3 linked regions of the Homo sapiens genome follow. The protein of the gene in region 3 purifies or fractionates together with the protein of the main gene of each other region. This does not show direct contact. Each region holds a gene or a part of one and is shown on either strand. Other genes may lie near its edges.

Region 1 (3,500 bases), on a different chromosome or scaffold from region 3:
ATCAAGTCTTATTTAGAAAGTCCTTTCTGCTCCAAAGTTTACAAATTTCACCTCTGCTTTATGGTTTCTTTTTCTATCCTTCTTGGATCCATTTGGAATTTGTTCTGGATGTGAGGATTGAGATAGAATTGTTTTTTTAAAATCTCTGAATAATTAAGCAATGGTTATAGTTCCATTTATTTTATAATTTCTCTTTGCCCCACTGATTTTAAACAACATCTTTATCAGAAACTAAAAATTTCCAAACATAATTGGGTCTACATATAAACTCTGTTTAATTGTTTTTATTTATTTATTTTTTTTCTCTAGTATCAAACTGTCTTAACTATTCCAGCTTTTTAACAGGTTTTAAGATCTGGTAGAACTAGGAACCCTCTACCACTTATCTTCATTTTCAGGTTGTTTTTCTTGGTTGTTCTTGTATGTCTATGATTCCAAATGAACTTTGGTGTCATTATGTCATTTGTTTTTAATTAAACAAACAACGATACAACCCTGCTGTTTCCACTGGGATGTCATGCAATTTAGACGAAAGTCTTCCTATCCAAAAACAGAATGATTCTTTCCTTTACTTAAATCTTGTTCTATGTCCCTCAGTAGAATTCTGCACATACAAGTCCTACACATTTCTTATTTAATTCATATATAAATGCTTTATAGTTTCTTCCATTGTATTTTCTAACAGGTTATCATTTATTTCCTATCATAATAGGAAAACTATTTGCTTTTATGTATTCATTTTGTGATCTACCATCTTACTGAATTTAATTGTTTCTAACTTTTTATCAGGTAATTTTCTTGCGTGTACTAGACATATAATTTTATCCTGCTACCTCACAGAAATTTTGCCTCTTCCTTTCCAATATTTACATCTTTTTTTTTTTTTTTGAAACAGTCACTCTGTTGCCCAGGCTGGAGTGCAGTGGTGCAATCTCGGCTCACTGCAACCTCCACCTCCCAGGTTCAATGTTCAAGCTATTCTCCTGCCTCAGCCTCCCAAGTAGCTGGGATAACAGGCACCCACCACCACGCCCCGCTAATTTTTGTATTTTTAGTAGAGAAGGGGTTTCACCCTGCTGGCCAGGCTGGTCTCCAACTCCTGACCTCAAATGATCCGCCCACCTCAGACCTCCAAAGTGCTTGGATAAGAGGTGTGAGCCACCATGCCCAGCATACATTTCATTTCTTTTTACTGTCTAATTGCACCATCAAGAACTTAAAAAACAACGTTATACATTTGTAGCGATCATGGGTATCCTTGTCTTGTTTCATACAATGGGAATGTTTTTATTGCTTTCTCTTTAAACACAATGCTAGCTTTTAACCCGATAATACATTTTTGTATTAAAGTATCTTTCTATTCCTACTTTTTTTTTTTTTTTTTTTTTAGATGGAGTCTCAGTCTTGTAGCCTAGGCTGGAGTGCAGTGGTGCAATCTCAGCTCACTGCAACCTCCGCCTCCTGGGTTCAAGCTTCTCCTGCCTCAGCCTCACAAGTAGCTGGGATTACAGGCGCCCACCACTATGCCCAGCTTATTTTTATACTTTTAGTAGAGACAGGGTTTCGCCATGTTGGCCAGGCTGGTCTCCAACTCCTGACCTCAGGTGATCCACCTGCCTTGGCCTCCCAAAGTGCTGGGATTACAGGCACGAGCCACTGCGCCCGGCCATCTATTCCTACTTTTAAAAACAGTTTTTAAAATTAGAAATAGTTGCTGACTTTTCTCAATATTAAAAATATTTGTGGCTGGGTACAGCGGCTCATGCCTATAATTCTAGCACTTTGGAAGGCTGAGGGGGTGGATTGCCCATACACAGGAGTTAAGAGAACAGCCTGGGCAACATAGCAAAAACCTGTGAACACAGGAGTTAAGAGACCAGCCTGGGCAATATAGCAAAACCTCGTGAACACAGGAGTTAGAGACCAGCCTGGGAAACATGGCAAGGACCTGTCTCTGCAAAAGCTTTTAAAAAATTAGCCAGGCGTGGTGGCATGTGCTTGTGGTCCCAGATGCTCAGGACGCTGAGGTAGGAGGCTTGTTTGAGCTTGGGAGGTTGAGGCTGCAGTGAGCTGTGACTGTACTACTGCACTCCAGCCTGAGTGACAGAGAAACCCTATCTCAAAAAAAAAAAAAAAATTGCCTTCCTATTTGTACTACCATATTTTTAACATATCCTCCATTTAAATCTTTAAAAGTTTATTTAGTTTTATTGGTGCATACACATTTACTGTTTTCTTAAACAATATACTAAGTATAGTAAATAATTCCCCCTCCATATTATCTTCAAAGCTAGCTGAAAGTACACGCTTACCCACCACGTTATTGTCTATACATGACCATTGGCTATTTCACTGTTACAGCTAGCTAGCTAGGTCTCCCATAGTGGAAGTATATGTACCCAGTGATGAATATTACTCAACTTCGCCAAGAAATAGCAAGAGCTATTAGATATTTTCAGAATTTTATAATGGTGACCCCAAAAAAAAGTAAAACAAGTCCCTTTAGCATGGCATTTATTTTCTCAGATTTTTCTCTTTGTCCTTTTAAATATATGTGCACATATCCAATGCAGGGATTAAAAAAAAAAAAACCCAAACTCCTGTGATAATGAAAACATCTCGAGCCCAATATATTACCTGCAATATGTCTCTATGCCGCTGTAATGTATGCATCAGGGCTGCATTCAAGGAGGGGACACCTGCACTGTTGGTATATTCTGCCATTTTATCATTTACCCCTGTAAGCTAGAAATAAAGAAAAAAAAAACAATCAAAATATTTTACTAAGCACTATAAACAGCTAAAAGCAAATTATTTGCCTATATGCCCTTTTGGTTGACAGCAAAACAAAACAAAACAAAACAAAACAAAAAACAAACAAGAGAGCAAGTAAGAATTCAGCATTCCCCCACATAATCCATAAAGACCAAAATAACATCATATCACCTGAGAATGGCTGTCATCAAAATTCAAGTGGTGTGGGGAGGTACACATATTGAATGGAATGGATAATTTCAATAAACATGTCTGTCTCAATATAATCCAGGATCCTACGTAACAAGTATACAGTTATTTGCAAAATAGCCATTTAACAGAAAGCACTTACCCTTGCCAAAAGTTGTTCAATCTCAATCGCCATTGTCTCAAACATTCTGTCTTGGCTTGATCCATTTAAAAGGGGTGTTGTATCAGAACTAAAAAGAAGTTCAGTTAAAGAGGATCCATTACTCAAATCAGTCCTTTAAAACATACTTAAAATAATAAGGTGATTAATAGGAGCCATAAAATGAATTATGGATTATGTTATATAGGGTCTGTGAGAAACGATCTTTTACATTTTTACCCCAAAGGAATTATGGTTCCTTCAACCTCAACATTACATTCTCTCTTCTTTCCTTGACTCTTACCAAGAGGAAATAAGATTGAGGTTTAAATGATCCACAGATTGGATAACTAGCTAACGAATACTCAGGAACTGGCTTTAAATCCAATATATACAG
Region 2 (3,500 bases), on a different chromosome or scaffold from region 3:
AGAACTTCTTACAGAGGCAGAGTCCATAGGCAAGTGATGAAATCTTGTAGGTTAAGTAAGAGAGATGAAGCTTTAGAATGCTGGTTTTGAGGTGCTGTAAGTCATCTAGGTTGAGCTATCATGGTGACAGTTGGAAATGGGGAAGGACCTTTAGAGATGAGAGCTGGGGATATCTGAAGCCATGATTTTAGATGAAATTGGCAGGGAAAGTGTTGAAAGAAGAGGGCCAGGGGCAGACACTGGGGAAAGCCTGCATTGAGAAAATGGTAGAAGGAGCCAGCCTGCTTAAGTAAAAAAGTGGTTAAAGAGGTTCTACCTCTTTGAGATACCACAGTGCCACAGGAGATACAGTATATATATAGTCAAATATATACTTGTACTTAAAACTTTCATTTTTGGCCACTGCATAATTATTGTTATAAGCACGCAATGTTTATGCTGTAATCAGATCTACTGAGGAATTAATGAAATTCATTTCCTTTGCTTCACAGGTCAAGAACTGTGGAATCTTTCAGATGATATTCTGATACTTCTGGACCAAGTATGTATGGTTGTCCTTGATCTTACTCTTAAGTTGCAATCTTAAGGTTAATTGAATATGTAACTTCATGTTACTGTTTTTGATATGTAAAGGAGTGATTTTTTAAAAGTGACAAGCCTATGAGCATTTATAGAACAACTAATATGTTCTTTTTCATATGTTAAAAGAACAAACACGGTAATTCTAGCAAAAAATGATTATGATGGCATGTCAATCCAGAGTGTAGGTGCAAAAAAAGAAAAACACCTTTCTTTGGGGCCACAAAGCAGCCCTTTTTTGAGGGCATTGATTGGAACCCATATATAAATAGAAACTAGCTTTTTCACATATATCTAAACTGCTAATTTACAGTGATAGCCTCTTTTTTCTTTGCATAAAAATCTTTTACATATTTGGGAGTTTTGTTTTCAATTATTATTTAGAGTATTATACTAAAGAACAGAAATCAGTTTAATGCAAAGAATACTTGATAGATGAAAAAGATGTTTATGGCTTTTTTCTTTTTTTGAGACAGGGTCTCACTCCTTTTGCCCAGGCTGGAGTGAAGTGGTACAATCGCAGCTCACTGTACCCTCAACTTTCTGGGCTCAGGTGATTCTCCGACCTCAGCCTCCTGAGTAGCTGAGATTACAGGCTTGCATCATGGTGCCTGGCTAATTTTTGTGTATTCTGTAGAGACGGGGTTTCATCATGTTGCCCAGGATGGTCTCAAACTCCTGAGCTCCAGCAATCTGTCCACCTTGGCCTCCCAAAGTGCTGGGATTACAGGCATGAGCCACCATGCCTGGCTGTTTATTGCTTCAGTTGTTACCTTCCACCTAAACCTCAAGAAAATAATTTAACCTCTTTTCACTCTAATTCTTTTCAAAGAGATAGCTGATAATCCTAGCCAAAGAATGTCCATGGCTTTATCAGTACATACTGAACACACGTTCATTTTTTAAAATCATTATTATTTTTCAGGTCATTATGAAATTGTTTCTAAATGCCTTTTGATTTCCGGTTGATCACTTTATTACTACCGTACTGCATCAAACTTTTAAAGTAGACATCTCTTGTGATTTGTATGAATTGATAGGAGACATTAGTAACTTCCAGGGATAAAAGAAATTATCATCAATAAAATGATGCTTTGAACAGAACTTGAAAAATGATGAAATTCTAGTCATATGAAAAAAGTTTAAAATAAATATAGTGTTTTTAAAGAGCAATGTATGTATTACTAGAATAAATTAACCAAAATTAATGCTTCCTTTAAATGAACAAACCTTTTCCTGCCAATGTAAAATGCCAATTATTGCCAAGATGAAAACACAGACACCGATGAGAGCTATAGCAGTAAGCAGAACAATATTACTTGGTGTAAGATACAGTTTGGCACTCCAACTGTAGATAAAAACAGAACAAATTAAAATTACAAATTTTATTTAAAAATAACAAAGTTATATTGAGACCCCAAAGCAAAATAGCTTATTAATTAAACAGTCAATGTATTCATTAAACCATTCATTCATCAGTCCATTCATTATAAATAAAACAAAAACAATTAAAAATCAGATAGTGCTGAGAATATTGATGATTCTGCAGTTTATATTTTACCTAGACAACTGAAATAGAATTTTTGATGAGATATTTCAATATTTTTCATTTTCCAAGTTTGATCCTATGAGAATTATTTTTAGGTAAACATATCCAAGGGTACTTTGGATAATCATAGACATCTTTTTTACATCTTGATTTACCTGCTTAATTTGAAAACCTGAACTCTAAAGCAAGGTAGTCACATGATCCTAGAAGCCTTCTGTATCATCTTATTTTTGACCTGTGTCACATATATAATGTGACCAAGTAAAACATAAATGTTGATGGCTTGTGCAAAACTTCTATAATTTTTATATCATGTTGGAGTGTTTACATTACTACAATGACTTTTAGGTTCAGATCACTTACAAAATCATCTTTAGTCCCTCACTGTTAATGGCAATATACAGACTAGAGGTCTTTAGTAAACAGAACTAGTTCTTTCCTTCTAAAACAGTCCATGTAATATAGCATTTGCACACCCTGAAAGCCTAAAACTAAGGACTGTATCACCAAGTGTGAAGGTTGTTATATACACATAACTTTTTGTTCTTCCTAGAAATAGGTAATGGCTATATTTTTATTTTAAAAGTTTAATAAAGGTAAGACTGTTCTGGTAAATAGCAAGTAGCTATTGATTTATTCTGGGATAATTAAAATTTATTGATCCATAAGTTAGCTTCTAGTCAATAACCTCAAAATACACCTCAAAAACTAAAATCAATTTGGTTTTTATTATGTACATAAATTTGAAAAGAACATTTCTTTGGAAAGAGTAAGAGAAACATGAAAAATGTTGAGATTACGGAAAAAAGCTATGGTATAATTTTCTGGAAATTCAGAAGAGTAAGTAAACCTTAAGAAAACAAATACTGTTAATTAGTTGAAAGCTACTCTTAGTGTTATACTCATACTTAAGAAAACAGTTCTTTTATGAGATGTTTTTGGTAGTTCTACTTTTAAAATAGATTTTTAACAAATCAGGAATGTAAGTGTTTTGGTAAAAAAAAAAAAAAAAAAAGACAAAAGTCAATCCTCAGTTTTCTCCTCAGAGGCAGTCACTCTTACCAGTTTCCTGCATATCCTTTCAGAGATATTTTATACATGTATGAACATGTATGTATAGATGGCTTCTTTTTAAATCACAATGGCTGCTTATTATACATACTCTTCTACATTTTGCTGTTGCTTCTTTTGTTTGTTGTTGTTGTTATTGTTTTTTGCTTACCACTCCATCTTAAGAGACTGTTCTATGTCCGTGGCAGTGAAAAAAAATCATGCTACTGAGCTGTATAGAAGTACCGTACTTTATATAGTTTCCTACTCATGGTCCAGATTTTCTAGTTTTACTGTAAATTTCATCTATAGAAAACTAACA
Region 3 (3,500 bases):
CTCTCTTTTCTTTTTTGGGACTTTTTTTTCTAAAAAACAAACAACAAAACAGTTCTTTGAAGTTCCATTTAGATTTTCATTCTCAAGCAAAGATATAGGTATCTTCCAATGTTTCTCCTCTGAGATTTTACTCCTTCCCCTTTGACAATTGCCACCTCAACAGAAGCCTGATCAGAAATGAATGCCTTTCAGGCCGGGCTCAGTGGCTCATGCCTGTAATCCCAGCCCTTTGAGAGGCTGAGGCGGGTGGATCACTTAAGGTCAGGAGTTTGAGACCAGCCTGGCCATCATGGTAAAACCCCATCTCTACTAAAAGTATGAAAATTAGCTAGGCATGGTGGCATGCACCTGTAATCCCAGCTACTTGGGAGGCTGAGGCAGGAGAATCGCTTGAACCCAGGAGGAGGAAGTTGCAGTGAGCAGAGATCACACCACTGCATTCCAGCCTGGGAGACAGAGCAAGACTCTGACAAAAAAAAAAAAAAAAAAAAAAAAAAAAAAGAGGCTTTCACAGACCATAAAATAAGAATAAGACAATAATTTGGTAGTTTTTTTTCCTGATGCTTCAAAATTCTATACTGAACTCTCAAAACCTCAGATAGCCTATCTTATTATTAATGATCTGTATTGCAGGTGGATTAAAGAACCTCATTTAGCCATAACTTAGCAAATTCCATGACTGCCAGGATGTTTAACAGTTGGTCAGTCCACATGAGTGAATGACTTTTGTGAGAGTAGAAGTTGGTAGTTTTTCCATCAGAGAAATATTTTATTTGTTTAAATGAAATGGTCACAGGTAATAAGAGAATAAAATAAACCAGCCTGATCTCCATGAAAAGTAGTTAGTGAGCTTTCCCTATAACAACAAATGCTCAAGATGTAGTTTAACATCCCAAATTGGTAGTATAGTAAAATAACATTCACACTTTCAGAGTTTATGAAATAATCATATGTATAACAGCCCATCTAACTCATGAGACTAATATCCAAGATTCAAGTTGTTTAAAATTGTTATTTTATCAAATTATATCACAAAGATACAAGAAAATGAGCTTTGAAGATGTGTATGATTAGATCTCTTGTTTAGGTATATACCTTTGGAAACTTGAAATAAATAAATCTATAACAATTCCTTAAATGTAAATACCACAATATTGGTTCAGAAAAACACATATTACTCTTAGCAGCTTATTTAAAAACACATCAACTCAATGTTATCTTTAAGAAGACTGACAAAGTCAGGTTACAAAGGAGGTTCTCATTTATTTTCAAGGTATCTTCTCAATTGCTTTTTTCTTACACATTCATAACAAATTCAGATGCACAAGTGGCCAATCCATTCTATAATACCACCAGATTGTAGAATCTTCCAACTCATGACTGGAGAAAAATCTTGACTATAATGTAGTTCAACAAGTCATCAAATTAGAGAATCCCCTGTACTCCATTCATTCCAGGGCCATCAACTTACTTTTGAAGACTGTCGATAACAGAATCTCCTATCTCCTTAGTGATCCATTTTCTATTCGAACATCATTGACAGTCAAAAACTCTGCTGTTTTCTGTTCATGAAACAATGATTCTGTTTGCACATTTCAGTCATAATAAATAAGACTAATCAGTCTTCTAAATGATAATCCCTTTTTTCTTGAAATATTTCAATAAAGAGTTCCTATATGATGAAAGCCTTATTGTCTGGGTTAAAATGCTAAAATATTTAAATTTTTATTTGAACCTCATTAACATTTGTTCTCCCATTCACCAGTCAGTCATCTATTTTTAGAGATATGTCCTGTAAGCAGACACTACCGAGCATGTTTTAAAATTCATGTTCACTCTTTATTTATTAATTATCATTATTATTTTTTGAGACAGAGTCTCGCTCTGTCACCCAGACTGGAGTGCAGTGGCACGATCTTGGCTCACTGCAACCTCTGCCTCATGGGTTCAAGCGATTCTCCTGCCTCAGCCTCCCGAGTAGCTGCGATTACAGGCCCATGCCACCCCACCTGGCTAATTTTTGTATTTTTAGTAGAGACGGGGTTTCACCATGTTGGTCAGGCTGGTCTCGAACTCCTGACTTCGTGAGATGCCTGCCTTGGCCTCCCAAAGTGTTGGGATTACAGGCATGAGCCACCGCACCCGGCCATTTTCACTCTTAAATACTATCAGGCACACAGTATGCAAAAGACACTGTAGTAGGCACACAGCATCGGTGCTTAGTTATTGTTAACAACCCAATAATTATAATAATGGTGATGTCAACAAATACGTGTTCACTATGCTGCTTTAGAGTTTGAAAAAAAGTTATAAAATTATTTTCTTAGAATTTGAGTCAGATAGATAAGGAAAGTCTTGTTTTAAAAAATAATATAAGTAGAGCTTATTTGAGCCAAGCTTTAGGATTGCAACCCAGGAACATAGATTCAAGTTGCCCTGGATACACACTCTATAAGCAGCAGTTACAGGTGGATTTTTACTCCAGACTGGGCAACAGAGGGGGATCCTATCTCTGATAAGAGAAGTCTTTTAAATCTTAATTTTAATTGGAAGATAATGGCGATTGTAACTGGCCCAAGTAAATAACAGATAGTTACAGGAATGTTATTCAGGTCTTTTAACACCAAAGATCTGGTGTCCCCTGCTGCAGTTACCAATGATTCTTATCTTTTCAAAAATAATTTTTGATTCCTAAGTAGTAAAGGTGAAAGATCTCTTGTATGAACGTCTGTCGTTTATAGTTATCAAGTAACACTGAGAAAAAACAAAATCTTTTTTTTTTTTTGAGAGAGAGAGAGAAAAAGTCTCATTCTGTCTCCCAGGCTAGGGTGCAGTGACACAATTATATCTCACTGCAGCCTCATACCCCTGGACTTAAGCAATCCTCCTATCAGAGCTTCTCGAGTAGCTGGGACTACAGGTGTACGCCACACATCTGGCTACTTTTTTTTCTTTTTGGTAGAGACAGAGTCACCCAGGCTGGTCTCAAACTCCTGGTCTCAAGGGATCCTCCTGCCTCAGCCTCCTGAAGAGGTGGGATTACAGGCGTGAACCACCATGCTAGCTAAAACCAAGATCTTGATCTTTAACACTGACCTAAATTAAGGTTATTTTTTTTCCCACATTAGAAAAAGAAAGAACCTTACAAATGTCACATAGTAGGAAAAAACCTAAGAAACGAGATGTACTCAATCCAAGACACAAATAGTTTGCCAAGAAGAGAAAGGTAAAGAAAAACTAGGACATGCATTATTTTCCCCCACAAAATTAAGACTTCAGAACATTCTTTTGATATAAAAGAAAAACATTAGAATTATGTGACTCTCTGCAAAGGGCTAAGAAAACTAAGCACTAATCAAAGACAATCTTGAATTTTCCTGTCAACCAATAAAAACGATACCCTCGGCCGGGCGCGGTGGCTCACGCCTGTAATCCCAGCACTTTGGGAGGCCGAGGCGGGTGGATCATGAGGTCAGGAGATCGAGACCATCCTGGCTAAC

What was found. Proteins that work in one complex are often made in the same cells at the same time.
Region 1: the proteins of PCDHGA6 (region 3) and GOSR1 purify together in Homo sapiens (affinity purification with mass spectrometry; one large-scale study listed by BioGRID and IntAct). This does not show direct contact.
Region 2: the proteins of PCDHGA6 (region 3) and ITFG1 purify together in Homo sapiens (affinity purification with mass spectrometry; one large-scale study listed by BioGRID and IntAct). This does not show direct contact.

What each region holds. Positions count from the first base shown.
Region 1 is NC_000017.11:30,483,908-30,487,407, reverse strand, and holds part of GOSR1 (Golgi SNAP receptor complex member 1), read right to left. Parts: intron 3,195-3,500; coding exon 3,107-3,194; intron 2,746-3,106; coding exon 2,638-2,745; intron 1-2,637. UniProt on the Homo sapiens protein: Involved in transport from the ER to the Golgi apparatus as well as in intra-Golgi transport. It belongs to a super-family of proteins called t-SNAREs or soluble NSF (N-ethylmaleimide-sensitive factor) attachment protein receptor.
Region 2 is NC_000016.10:47,157,064-47,160,563, forward strand, and holds part of ITFG1 (T-cell immunomodulatory protein isoform 1 precursor), read right to left. Parts: intron 1,928-3,500; coding exon 1,810-1,927; intron 542-1,809; exon of another isoform or gene 492-541; intron 1-491. UniProt on the Homo sapiens protein: Modulator of T-cell function. Has a protective effect in graft versus host disease model.
Region 3 is NC_000005.10:141,376,891-141,380,390, reverse strand, and holds part of PCDHGA6 (protocadherin gamma-A6 isoform 1 precursor), read right to left. Parts: exon of another isoform or gene 746-3,500; intron 1-745. UniProt on the Homo sapiens protein: Potential calcium-dependent cell-adhesion protein. May be involved in the establishment and maintenance of specific neuronal connections in the brain.